4 linked regions of the Homo sapiens genome follow. The gene in region 1 interacts genetically with each later gene. Each region holds a gene or a part of one and is shown on either strand. Other genes may lie near its edges.

Evidence for each region.
Region 2: changes in PPP4C (region 1) and RIT1 together harm fitness more than expected from each alone (negative genetic interaction), as found in Homo sapiens cells (one large-scale study listed by BioGRID).
Region 3: changes in PPP4C (region 1) and EGFR together harm fitness more than expected from each alone (negative genetic interaction), as found in Homo sapiens cells (one large-scale study listed by BioGRID).
Region 4: of PPP4C (region 1) and ATG7, changing one suppresses a phenotype caused by changing the other (phenotypic suppression), as found in Homo sapiens cells (one large-scale study listed by BioGRID).

Annotation. Positions count from the first base shown.
Region 1 is NC_000016.10:30,078,994-30,082,434, reverse strand, and holds part of PPP4C (serine/threonine-protein phosphatase 4 catalytic subunit), read right to left. Parts: intron 1,236-3,441; exon of another isoform or gene 1,177-1,235; coding exon 1,125-1,176; intron 1-1,124. UniProt on the Homo sapiens protein: Protein phosphatase that is involved in many processes such as microtubule organization at centrosomes, maturation of spliceosomal snRNPs, apoptosis, DNA repair, tumor necrosis factor (TNF)-alpha signaling, activation of c-Jun N-terminal kinase MAPK8, regulation of histone acetylation, DNA damage checkpoint signaling, NF-kappa-B activation and cell migration.
Region 2 is NC_000001.11:155,901,350-155,904,849, forward strand, and holds part of RIT1 (GTP-binding protein Rit1), read right to left. Parts: intron 3,456-3,500; coding exon 3,382-3,455; intron 3,154-3,381; coding exon 2,962-3,153; intron 1-2,961.
Region 3 is NC_000007.14:55,022,017-55,025,516, forward strand, and holds part of EGFR (epidermal growth factor receptor isoform a precursor), read left to right. Parts: intron 1-3,500. UniProt on the Homo sapiens protein: Receptor tyrosine kinase binding ligands of the EGF family and activating several signaling cascades to convert extracellular cues into appropriate cellular responses.
Region 4 is NC_000003.12:11,359,397-11,362,896, forward strand, and holds part of ATG7 (ubiquitin-like modifier-activating enzyme ATG7), read left to right. Parts: intron 1-1,184; coding exon 1,185-1,388; intron 1,389-3,416; coding exon 3,417-3,500. UniProt on the Homo sapiens protein: E1-like activating enzyme involved in the 2 ubiquitin-like systems required for cytoplasm to vacuole transport (Cvt) and autophagy.

The DNA.
Region 1 (3,441 bases):
GGGACTACCCTCCAAACACCCGCTGCTTTAGTGAGCTTTATCACTCTTGGCTGCACTTCTACTTCCTAGGACCAAAATTCTCCTCTCCCACCCCAAGTCAGTCTGGTCTGGAACCATACCCACTGTCCTATGCTGAGTACCAACTATTCTGTAGGCAAGAGCTAGAACTAAGTCCTTCCAGGTAGATGTCCCGGCCCCTTCCTCTCTCTACTCCCCACAAAGTACCCAGAATCAAGTTACTAACACAGAGCCCTGGAGATATGTGAGCAGAATCACTCGCCAAATAGGAGTCCTTCTGCCCTGGCCAAGAATCTCCACTAACAAATCCAAAGTCCCTTCCCATAACCCCTTTCTTTTCTTTCCTTTCTTTTTTTTTTTTTTAGACGGAGTCTCACTCTGTCGCCTAGCCTGGAGTGCGGTGGCGCGATCTCGGCTCACTGCAAGCTCCGCCTCCTGGGTTCACGTCATTCTCCTGCCTCAGCCTCCCGAGTAGCTGGGACTACAGGTGTCCACCACCACACCTGGCTAATTTTTTTGTATTTTTAGTAGAGATGGGGTTTCACCATGTTAGCCAGGATGGTCTCGATCTCCTGACCTCATGATCCACCTGCCTCGGCCTCCCAAAGTGCTGGGATTACAGGCGTGAGCCGCCGCGCCCGGCCTGTTTTTTTTGTTTTTTTTTGTTTTTTTTTGAGACGGAGTCTCCCTCTGTCACCCAGGCTGGAGTGCAGTGGCCTGATCTCAGCTCACTGCAATCTCCAACTCTGGGGTTCAAGCGATTCTCCTGCCTCAGCCTCCCAAGTAGCTGGGATTACAGGCACGTGCCACCACGCGTGGCTAATTTTTGTATTTTTAGTAGAAACGGTTTCACCATGTTGGCCAGGCTGGTCTCGAACTCCTAACCTCAAGTGATGTGCCCACCTTGCCCTCCCAAAATGCTGGGATCACAGGTGTGAGCCAACGTGCACAGCAACCCCCACTTCTTTTAGCAGTGCTCCGTTGAAGGTGAGGGAAAGGACAGATAAAAGAGCTTAGGGTTGGGCTTATAGAGCCCCCAAGATGAAGAGGAAACTTCATGTGCCTGAAAGACCAGGCCTGGCTCTGCAGGGACAGCAGGTACTCACTGTGACTGGCGAGTCCACCCTCTGCACGTTGCTCTCCTCTACCAAGATCTCTCTGGAGACAGGAGAAGACCAGGGTCACCACAGCCAGGCCAGCCCAGCCCAATTCCTGACCTTTTTTGGGGGGAGGGGAGGATATGAGGCAGTCCTGGAAGCTCCAGGGGGCAGGAGTGAAGCGTACAGTCTCCCCAAAACAGGCTGACCACGGCCCTTCAGCATGCAACACCCTTCCGTGGCCCCCTGCTGCCAAAAGGACAAAGTCCAACCTCTTATCCCAGCGTTCCAGGCCTTCTGAGCAGGCTGGGACTTTTCCAGCCCTGACTCCCCCTGCCGCTCCCTCTTCCGCATCCAGGACTCACTCCTGGGAGGCGGGTCTCCCCATCCTCTCCACAGCAGAGCTTAAGTCACCCTTGGCCAATCACAGAGCCCTTCTCCCAGGCTATCCAGACACAAGGGTAGGTGCCCAGGGCAGGCCCACAGTGGATGCGCCTTCAAAGTGATGCGCTCTTGGCCAGGTGCGGTGGCTCATGCCTGTAATCCCAGCACTTTGGGATGCCAGGGTGGGCAGATCACGAGGTCAGGAGTTTGAGACCAGCCTGACTAACATGGTGAAACCCTGTCTCTACTAAATATACAAAAATTAGCCAGGCGTGGTGGCGCGTGCCTGTAATCCCAGCTACTTGGGAGGCTGAGGCAGGAGAATCGCTTGAACCTGGGAGGTGGGGGCTGCAGTGAGCTAAGATCGCGCCACTGCACTCCAGCCTGGGCGACAGAGCAAGACTTCATCTCAAAAAAAAAAAAAAAAAAGTGAGGTGCTCTTGCCATGTGTTCAGTATTTCTTTATGACTATGAGGACTTAAATATTTTTTATTTCTCCTTGCAGTGCAGTCTACTTCTACTTGAGTGAGCAGGAGATGAAATCACTTTGCCAGGTAAGACACCCAATTTTTTTTTTTTTTTTTTTTTTTTGAGACAGAGTCTGGCTCCATTGCCCAGTCTGGAGTGCAGTGGCGCCATCTTTGCTCACTGCAAACCTCTGCTTCCTGGGTCAAGTGATTCTCCTGCCTCAACCTCCCGAGTAGCTGGGATTAGAAGCATGTACCACCACGCCCAGCTAATTTTTGTATTTTTAGTAGAGTCGAGATTTCACTATGTTGCCCAGGCTGGTCTCGAACTCCTGACCTCAAGTGATCTACCCACCTTTGCCTCCCAAAGTGCTGGGATTACAGATGTGAGCCACTGCACCCAGCCTATAGATACCCAATTTAAGCAACACTGTATTTCCAAATTTTGCCTGGTAATAGCAGCAGTGAACATTCGAGCTCATACTGTGTGCCACAAATGTTATTAAGAGCTTGGCAGGCAGGTACTATGATGATTCCCGGTACACAGATGAAGAAATTGAAGCAGGGAAGGAGGCTGGCTTGGTGCCAGTGACACAGGTGGGATATGAACCAGGGAAGCCTGGCTCTGGGGTCTGACTCTTTATCAAGATATTCTGATGTGGGAGGCCCAACTCGCCTGGCCCCCCTCTTTCTGCCAATCTCTTCCCTTAGAATGAGTTTCCTGAGCTCAGTGGACAGGAGGATTCACTTATGCCCCTTGCTCTGTATGGCAGAGGCAGCACGAAGGAGGTCTGCCCTGGCTTTCTGGGAACAGAAGGCAGCACTGGCGGTGGTCCAAGAGGCCACATCAGTACCCGGACTCTCCCACCTGCACTGCTTCTTGTGCTGAACATCCTTCCCCATCAACTGCTCATAGTGACCTTTCCAACAGACTGGGGAGGTTCTCTTCAGCCTCACGTAACAGTAAAGAAACCGAAGCTAGGCCGGGCGCGGTGGCTCATGCCTGTAATCCCAGCACTTTGGGAAGCCAAGGCAGGCAGATCATGAGGTCAAGAGATTGAGACCATCCTGGCCAACATGGTGAAACCCCGTCTCTAGTAAATATACAAAAATTAGCTGGGCATGGTGGCGCGTGCCTGTAATCCCAGCTACTTGGGAGGCTGAGGTAGGAGAATCACTTGAACCTAGGAGGTGGAGGTTGCAGTGAGCCAAGATCAGGCCACTGGCACTCCAGCCTGGGCAACAACAGCAAAACTCTGTCTCAAAAAAAAAAAAAAAGAAAAAAAGAAACCAAAGCTTACAGAAAAGCGGGAGGGTCAAGGTCACCAAGCTGGAGAGTGGCTAAATTGGAACCCAGAAGCCCAATTTCCTGAGAATTTATGCCAGCCCCTTCCACAGACCCTGAGTGAAAACCTGAAGCCCAGGGAGGTCACATGCAGGGCCCGTGCTCTCTGCAAAGCCCCCCTCAGTGCCAG
Region 2 (3,500 bases), on another chromosome or scaffold:
ATTTAGCTGGGGCCAGGAGCGGTGGCTCACGCCTGTAATCCCAACACTTTGGGAGGCTGAGGCAGGTGGATCACTTGAGGTCTGGGGTTCGAGACCAACCTGGTCAACATGGCAAAACCCTGTCTCCACTTAAAAAAAACTAGCTGGGCATGGTGTTGGGCACCTGTAATCCCAGTTACTCGTGAGGCTGAGGCAGGAGAATCGCTTAAACCTGGGAGGCGGAGGTTACAGTGAGCCAAGATCGCGGCACTGCACTCCAGGTGTCACACTCCAGCCTGGGTGACAGAGCCAGACTCTGTCTCAAAAAAAGAAAAAAAAATTAGTTGGATGTGGTGGTATACACCTGTGGTCCCAGCTACTCAGGAGGCTAAGGTAAGAGGATCACTTGAGCCCAGGAGGTCAAGGCTGCGGTAAGCCATGTTTGCGCCACTGCACTCCAGCCTCAGTGACAGAGCAAGACCCTGTCTCAAGAAAAAAAAAAGTTGGGTGCGGTGGCTCATGCCTGTAATCCCAGCACTTTGGGAGGCTGAAGCAGGCAGGCAGATCACCTGAGGTCAGGAGTTCAAGACCAGCATGGCCAACACGGTGAAACCCCATCTCTACTAAAATAAGAAAGAAACACTAAACAATACAACCATGAAACTGATCACCGGGATTGCAAATCTAATTGGGAAAAGAGTTGAGCAAACAGCTTGGACTGTTTGGAGTTGTTGCCTTACTTTTTAATATGTATTTATAAAGTATTCCAGCAAAAGAGGATGTAGCCTCTGGGAAAAAACAAACATGTTACAGTGTTTTTTGTAGATTCTCGTTCTATATCTCATCACAGTGCCAGCCCTGTTTTTAGCCGGAAAGGATTCAGGAGAAACATTATTATGCATTCTGAACTGGATGCATATTCCTAACTACTGTATTTGTTACCAAAAGTGGTTCTACAAATGCTACTGAAAAAAATCTGGAAATTCCTAATGTCCTGAGTATTAATAATAAAGTTTAAAAATGCTTTTATATCAAAAAAAAAAAAAAGAAAAGAAAAATTAGCTGGGCATGGTGGCAGGCGCCTGTAATCCCAGCTACTTGGGAGGCTGAGGCAGGAGAATTGCTTGAACCCAGGAGGCAGAGGTTGCAGTGAGCCAACATCATGCCACTGCACTCCAGCCTGGGTGATAAGAGTGAAACTCTGTCTAAAAAACAACACAAAACAAAAAAACGCTGGGTGTGGTGGCTCACATCTATAATCCCAGCACTTTGGGAGGCCAAGGTAGGTGGATCACCTGATGTCAGGACTTCAAGACCAGCCCGGCCAACATGGTGAAACCCCGTCTCTACTAAAATACAAAAATTAGCTGGATGTGGTGGCAGGCACATGTAATCCTAGCTACTCAGGAGGCTGAGGCAGGAGAATCGCTTGAACTCAGGAGTCAGAGAGGTTGCAGTGAGCCTAGATTGCGCCACTGCACTCCAGCCTGGGCAACAGAGTGAGACTCTGTCTCAAAACAACAAAATTAAAATAAAAATTAAAAAAAAAGAAAGCTGGGCGCGGTGGCTCACGCCTGTAATCCCAGCACTTTGGGAGGCCGAGGTGGGAAGATCATGAGGTCAGGAGTTTGAGACCAGCCTGACCAACATGGTGAAACCCCGTCTCTACTTAAAAATACAAAAATTAGGCCGGGCGCGGTGGCTCATGCCTGTAATCCCAGCACTTTGGGAGGCCGAGGCAGGCTGATCACGAGGTCAGGAGATCGAGACCATCCTGGCTAACACGGTGAAACCCCATCTCACTAAAAATACAAAAAATTAGCCAGGCATGGTGGCGGACACCTGTAGTCCCAGCTACTCGGGAGGCTGAGGCAGAAGAATGGCATGAACCTGGGAGGCAGAGCTTGCAGTGAGCAGAGATCGTGCCACTGCACGCCAGCCTGGGCGACAGACAAGACTCCGTCTCAAAAAAAAATTAGCCGGGCGTGGTGGCATGCGCCTGTAATCCCAGCTACTCAGGAGGCTAAGGCAGGAGACTCACTTGAACCCAGGAGGAGGAGGTTGCAGTGAGCCGAGATTGTGCCACTGCACTCCAGCCAAGGCAACAGAGTGAGACTCTGTCTCAAAAAAAAAAAAAAAAAAAAAAGAAAGAAACACAAAGGGAGGGAAAGAGATATATGCTTACACTAAAATATTGAAAACTATTAGGAGCCCATAATTGATACATCTAATTATGGATATGCCATAATTTCTACTTTTGGACAGCTAGATTGTTTCTCATTTTCTTCTACCATAAATAGTCTTGCAATGAACATGTTATATATAAATCCCTATAAATTTTTTCCAATGGAGATTAACAGAGAAGCATTATGAATTTGACTACTATCAAACTACTTCCAGCCAGGCGCTGTGGCTCACACTTGTAATCCCAACACTTTGGGAGGCCAAGGCAGGAGGATCACTTGAGTCCAGGTGTTCAAGATCAGCCTGGGCAACATAGTGAGATCCTGTCTCCACAAAAAGTAAAAACAATTAGCTGGGAGTGGTGGCACACGCCTGTGGTCCCAGCTACCCTCAAAGCTGAACTGGGATGATTGCTTGAGCTGGGGAGGTAGAGGCTGCAGTAAGCTGTAGCCCCAACCTCACTGCAACCTCCACCTCCCCAGGTCAAGGGATCCTCCCACCTCAGCCTCCCAACTAGCTGGGACCACATGTGCATGCACCACTATGCCCAGCTATGTTTTTTTGTATTTTTTGTAGAGATGGGGTTTCGCCATGTTGCTCAGGCTGGTCTCAAACTCCTGACCTTAAGCAACCTGCCCACCTTGGCCCCGCAAAGTACTGGTGTGAGCCACCTCACCCAGCCTGATTTTCTATTTTAAGGCAAAAAAATCTGTAAGCCAAGCCAAGAATCTGTAAGCCAAGAAACAAAAATGACTAATTGTATAAGATTATAGACAGTATTTTCTTCTCTATCCTCACCTGTCTTAGCTGTTTGAGGTCTGACTTGTTTCCCACAAGAACCACAGGTGTATCGTCAGTACGTCGGACTCGATAAATAAGCTGTTTAAACTCACGAACTTCATGGAAACTTCGACGATCCGTGATAGAGTAACAGATGATAAACCCTTCTCCTGCCCTCATATACTGGTCCCGCATGGCTGTAAACTCTGCCTAGAGGGAAACAAGGGTCATTATGTATTGACGCAATCTAGCCCAACTACACACACAATTAGCTATTTCTTTCAGATTAAAGAAAACGCATGTCGATTACCTGCTATCCTGAGTCAGAGTGCATGAAAAATTAAGAGAGATAAACTATTGATCTTCTCTGTGTAGGCCTTCCCCTCCCCTTTGCTAGAGTAAAAAAGCCTTTACTCATAACATTCTGGGATTTAATACCTGTCCAGCTGTATCCAAAATGTCCAGATTGGCAGGCTCATCATCAATACGGATCCTGATCTTATAAGCATCTTCTACAGGAGGGAAGAAAGGTGTACTATAAAGTCATAAATGCCGGA
Region 3 (3,500 bases), on another chromosome or scaffold:
GCAAGGGGAAAGGGCCCAGGGAGCCGGCTCATGACGATGAGCCTGTCTGAAGCTTCAACGCGGGCTGTCCGGCAGTCTGCATTCCTGCCGAGTTCCTCAGCCCTCTGTTGGGTCACCTTCCATAGAGGCAGCTTAGTCCTCAGTTCAGTGAGCATGGAGTGGAGACTGCTTGAGGGGTGCTGAGCAAAGCCCTGCCTCTTACAGGATGAAGGTGCTCTCCAGAAGGGACACTGGAAAGTATTCCAAGGCGAGTCGAATTCCCAACTGAGGGAGCTTTGTGGAAATAAGCCCGCCCAGCCCCACTTCTGGAGACGTTCCCATTCAGTAGGTCCGAGCTGTCTTAAAGAGAAACCAAAGTGGGGATATTAATGGTATCCAAAGTGAGATCTACCCCACCCTCCCTCCTCAAAGGAGGTCAGATCAAGAAAGCCCAAGCCCGGCCTGGCAATTGGGACCTTTCTTCTCACTCCAGCCCAGGGTGAAGGTGGACAAGTCACTTTGACCCTTCAGGCTTCTGAGCTGTTGTTTCTGAATTCAGTGAATATTTACTGAGTGCATAGAATATGCTAGATATTCTGGGCTAAAGGTTGAAGGGGGGGTGAGTTTTAAGGGTTTCTGCTCTTGCTTCCAGATTGCTTTCAAATCTGGAAAGGACACCAGTGGTTTGTGTGTTAGACCCACACTGCCGTAGCACAGAATACAAGAAACTGGCTGAGAGCTCCAATAGGCTTTTAACAGTAATTTCTGGCTTCACGTATTTAGTTTCATAACTCATGATTTTTCAAAAACTTCTGGTTTGAAGACACCGATTGCCGAAAGTCCATTGTGCTGCATAATTACACTTGGTCCACGTGACAGCACTAACATGTTCTGAAATGTTTTTAGAAGTAGTCTCAGCAAAGATGAAGGATTCCTCCCTGTTTGAAAAGAAAATATTCTTTGTTTTTTCTTTGATCTAAGCTCTAAGACTAGCAGCTAGCATCTGAAACTTTTTTGACGAGAGTGACAAACCAACTCTAATATTAAAGGCAATTGATGATTATGGGCACTGAAGGGAAGGTAACCCCAGGCTGGTGCCCCGGAATAGGGATGGGTCACAATGTTGAGGACATTTCGCCTGTTGCAGAACCCACCTGCAACACAGTGTGGCCCTTGCCATGTGACTTGTGTGTGTGCCTGTGTGTCTGTGTGTGCGTGTTTTAATTTTGACTTCATAAGTACTCTAGTTATGAGCTTATTTAACATTGGGTTTTACTAATAGGGGTATGTGTTGAGAAAATTTCAAAGTTTTAGAATATGGTTCACCCACATGTTGCTTCCCTGTAAATATAATTTTTAAAACCAGATTCTGGGCCGGGCATGGTGGCTCACCTCTATAATCCCAAAACGTTGGGAGGCCGAGGCAGGCGAATCATGAAGCCAGGAGTTTGAGACCAGGCTGACCAACACGGTGAAACCCAGTCTCTACTAAAAATACAAAAAAAATTAGCTGGGCGTGGTGGCAGGTGCCTGTAATCCCAGCTACTCAGGAGGCTGAGGCAGGAGAATTGCTTGAACCCAGGAGGCAGAGGTTGCAGTGAGCCAAGATCGCACCATTGCACTCCAGCCCGCGCGACAGTGTGAGACTCCATCTCAAAAAAAAAAAAAAAAAAACAGATTCTGTTCCTCAGATCCATTCCATTTTTGTTTTCCTTTATCACTTATGGACATTTGAAATTATGGTAATAAACATTGTTAGTCTCAGTTAATTATTACTGGTTTATTCTTGAACCACTAATCCATAGAGAATAGAGTGTAAATCTTAACTTGTTCCTGTAGGCCATCCCCATTAAACATCATAGTGTTTTCTCATTCGTTCTTTTTCGTTTTCCTCCTACAGGAATGAATTTTCTAAGAAAATTCCAGCAGTTGGCTCTTTGGACGACATCTCTAGATTGTCCTCCATTGGGCCCATAGGCACAAGCTGGCCAGTTTGAATTTGGGCAAGAATCCAGGCATTGGAACTTATTCAAATAACTAGTTTGCCTGTAATTTTCACTTTTTCAGAGTCATCTGATAAAGCTTTCTTGCTACACATTTAGATAGATACACTCAATCCAGTTGTCTAGAAAGTTCCCTGAGCCAGCTGGGAGCAGGAGGGGTAGTTGGGGCCAGGAATATTGGGGGTGTGTTTACTGAGCCCCTAGAAAGTAAGTGCTAGATTTGACATTTCAATCCCTGAAGGCCCTGAAGTTCAGTATCAAATGACTGGTCCTGTGGACTGAGCATCTGTGAATTGCATATGCTTAGAGTAAATTTTACTCCTACCAGTTTCAGCAGCTTGCTTTAGCAAGCAGTATGGAAACACTAACATGGGGGAGTAGAATTTCTCTCTCTGATCCAAGTTTTATCTCATTCTGGTGGGTTTTCAAGGAGAGACTCGGAGTCCAAGTGTCCTTTCTGAATATATCTGGAACTTCTCATTAACAAAAGACTCAAGTTATAATTTAGGGGACAAGGCACCCAATGAGAATGCCTTGCAGGCAGCCCTAAGTACACCTGCAATTACACCATTACTAGCGCGGCAGCACACATGGCCCTGACTTAGTTTAAATAATTACGTAAGTCAACCATGATTGTTTGCCCTTTGCATAGAAGGGCAAGTATTGGTACCTGTTACAACTTAGGCTTTTTTTTCTTTATGTTTGAGCCATGATGAGTGATTTACACTGTTGCATCCATATGTTGAGATGTAAGAATAAATTAGACTTGGTAATTGCCCTTAAGTGTCTGGAAGTCAACTGGGGAAAGAGAGCTAGAGATAATAAGTGTGAAACAATGTCACAGAATCAATGACGGAACTCTTCCCAGGACAAAGGATGACTTTTGAGTTCAGTCTTTGCCTTTAATTCTACATGGGGAGGAGAGCACGTTTAGCCACAAATGGAAGGGATTACTCATTTGAGCTATTTGGTTATATGATTATTTCCCCAGAGAATAGGATGTGCAGGGCATTACACAAGCAGTGCCAATAGCAGCAAAGTTCTTGAGAGTGCTAGTAATTCAAATGGCAGGAAGAGAAGGAATAAATGGTAAGGCTACCTACAGTTCACAGAGAGCTCCATCCTCACTGTGGCTTTGGATTTTGTCCTGTGTGAAAGAGAAGTGACTGTGAACTGACATGCTGTGTTTGGTGTTTTAGAAAGATGGCTGCAGCAGCGGTTTGGGGAATGGACTGCAGGAGTGGCATTGGAAACAGGAAGGTTCATGACTATTGCCAGAGACAGAGGATGAAGCAGGAGCAAGGAAGATTCAGGACAGGGGACTCCGGGGCTGATCAGGAGGCAGAACTGGTTGATAAGTATATGTAGCAGCATAAGAAAGAAAGAATCCCAGATTGACACCCAGGCTTCTCACTTGGAAGCCTGGATAGATACTGAATGCAATCACAAAGGCTGGGAAGTCAATGGGACTGCAGGGAAGGGAAGGGAAGGGAGGAGAAGAGGAAGGGCAGGAGGGTC
Region 4 (3,500 bases), on another chromosome or scaffold:
AAAAAACGGTTTCTTAAAAATTTATGTGTTGGGCTGGACATGGTGGCTCACATCTGTATCCTAGCACTTTGGGAGGATTGCTTGACCCAGGAGTTTGAGACTAGCCTGGGCAACATGGTGAGACTCTCTCTCTAGAAGAAAAACAAAAAATTAGCTAGGTGTGGTGATGCACACCCGTGCTCCCAGCTACTCAGGAGGGTGAGGCAGGAAGATCACTTGAGCCTGGGAGGTTGAGGCTGCAGTGAACCGAGATCACGCCATTGCATTCCAGCCTGGGCAACGGAGTGAGATCCTGTCTCAAAAAAACCCCAAAGAAACAAAAAAACAAAAAAAAACCAACTATGCGGAGCCAGGCATGGTGGCATGTGCCTGTAATTCCAGCTACTGGGATACCAAAAAAATTCTATGTGAAGGGTGAATTATATGGTATGTGAGTTATATCTCAATAAAGCTGTTATAAAAACAAATCTATGTGAACATGACAGTATAGCATAATGGTGGAAAGAATGTGTTTGAGAACTATGTAGACTTGGTTTTATATACCTACCTCTTGCCAGATAAGTGACCTTGGGCAAGTTATAGAACTAACTTCTCTGACTTTCAGTATCCTCATCTATAAATAAGAAATGTTTGTTATGAGTTTTTTTGTTTGCTTTTTTCTTTTTCAGAGATAGAATCTTGCTCTGTCACCCAGGCTGGAGTGCAGTGGCGGAATCTCGGCTCACTGCAAACTCCATCTCCCAGGTTCAAGCATTTCTCATGCCTCTGCCTCCTGAGTAGCTGCGACTACTGGCGCAAGCCATCATGCTCGGCTAATTTTTTGTATTTTTAATAGAGACAGGGTTTCGTCATGTTGCCAGGCTGGTCTCGAACTCCTGACCTCAGACAGTCTGCCCGCCTTGGCCTCCCAAAGTGCTGGGATTACAGGTTATGAGCCACTATACCTGGTCTGTTATGAGTTTCAAATGAAATTAAATGAGATAATTTATGTTCATCACTTATCAAGTCTTTTGTAATTAATAAGCCCTCAGTAGTGGGTAGATTTTATCATCATTAGCTTTTATAATCTAATTACACTTACATGCAAAAAATAAATTTTAAAAAGTTGAGCAAATATGGAATTAGCCACAGCTTGAAATATATGTGTCTTTTAACTCTGCTCTTTCATTCCTTGAAACCTGCAGCTGGTCATCAATGCTGCTTTGGGATTTGACACATTTGTTGTCATGAGACATGGTCTGAAGAAACCAAAGCAGCAAGGAGCTGGGGACTTGTGTCCAAACCACCCTGTGGCATCTGCTGACCTCCTGGGCTCATCGCTTTTTGCCAACATCCCTGGTTACAAGCTTGGCTGCTACTTCTGCAATGATGTGGTGGCCCCAGGAGATGTAAGTGGATTTCTCTATAGTTCCAAATATTTCCTATCACCAACTTGTACACTGAGGCAGACCGACTTGGCCCTTTCATTTATGACTATTTAAATATTATCTTTTAACAAAGAGAAGAATTCTCCAATTTGGGGAGGATGGCATTATCTCATTATGAACCTTGACTGGCGTCATCAACTGTACACCTGTTCCTTGTTCACCAATATAAACGCGGCTACAAACCATATTTTTGGAAAGCTTATTGAGGAAACCACAGCAGACTAGTCCCTGATAGCACTCCGTATTGTCTCCGGTGCTTCTCTTAGTCAAGATAACATTACAAATCAGGAGTCTAAAGACCAGATTCCATCAATGGCTTGACACTGCCTCCCAGGTAGTTCTAAAAAGTCTCTTAGGTTCCCTCTACCTTTGCAAAATAGGAGTGATGTGTAGGCTTGTCAGATTTAGTAAGTAAAAATATAGGATTCCCAGCTAACTTTGAATTTCAGTTAATAATGAATTCTTTTTTTTTTTTTTTTGAGACAGAGTTTCGCCCTGTCACCCAGGCTCGAGTGCAGTGGCACAATCTCGGCTCCCTGCAACCTCTGCCTCCTGGGTTCAAGTGATTCTCCTGCCTCAGCCTCCTGAGTAGCTGAGATTACAGGTGTGTGCCACCATGCCCAGCTAATTTTTGTATTTTTAGTAGAGACGGGGTTTCACCATGTTGGTCTGGCTGGTCTCGAACTCCTGACCTCGTGATCCACCTGCCTCAGTCTCCCAAAGTGCTGGGATTACAGGTGTGAGCCACCACGCTTAGCCAATAATGAATAATTTTTTGGTATATGTCCCATGCAATATTCAAGACCCACTTATACTAAAAATTTATTTATCTGAAATTCAAATTTAACTGAGTGTCTTGTATTCTCCCTAGCAATGCTAATAGAGGAGGGAAGAATACCTGCCCTGTCAACTCACAGTGCAAAGTGGGTCAAGTGCGACAGTGCTTTGAACAGCAAGACTACACTGTACAAATTAAGATTCTATGACTTTCAGAACTCCACACAAGTCAGTCTGTATGTAGGTCTGTTCCTTTATCAGAACAGATAACGATTTCCAGTGAAACAATGCAGAGATGTTTTCTGTAACCTCCCCTCTATTTTTCCTTTGTTTTAAAACTTTTCCCTTAATAACTCATATCTCTTTTGGATGACTGGCTTTTATGCCCTCCCAATATAAAGAAAAGAAGATGACCATTCTCTTTTATGGAGAAAGATGGCTTGATGATCTCTGTTATGGTGTTATAATATATAGCTGGTCTTGTTATTTAGTGATTGTCAACAAATACGATTAGTGGTCCCTTGCAGTAAAGTCCCATCTGCTCATAAGGTAAAATTTTTATAGAGTCAAAAATATCTCTAACAACCTCTTAATTTGCCCAGAGTTGGATGGTTAGACTCTCTTTGGTTGAACCAGCAAAGGCTTGTGCTTAGAGCCATGTTGTAGAAAAAAAAAATACTTGTAGTAAACCCTAGAATCACACAGAGAGGTGATGCCCATGTTGTGAGAGGCACATAGGAACTGAGGGCCGCAGGAATAGTAAATTGTTGCTCCCATCTCACGGTCACTTTGAGGTGTTAGCTCAGTTAAAATGGCAGGGCAGAATCATTTGCACTTTTCAAATCATTGTTCCTTTCTGTGTCTCTGTCACTTAACTACCAAGCACAGTAGAACTGAATTGAGTCACTTAAAGGAACACATGATGCAGTTCCATTATATGAGGCAGCTAAGCCCTCATTTTTGGTTAATATCCCCCAATCTGTTTAGGCTACTGATCCTTTTTAGCATATCACCTCATTTAGTTACCTAAATTGTATATTTTGTTTATCTTGATAATCTCAAGAAATGATGTACTTGAGGCTGGATGTTCTTTGCCAACAATGAGCATCTGGTTATAATTTAAAGCTTTGTCACAGAGGATTTCATACTTGAGACAGCTAGAGTTGAATGGAGTAGAACGTTCTGCACACACCAATGATTGTTTCTTTGCAGTCAACCAGAGACCGGACCTTGGACCAGCAGTGCACTGTGAGTCGTCCAGGACTGGCCGTGATTGCAGGAGCCCTGGCCGTGGAA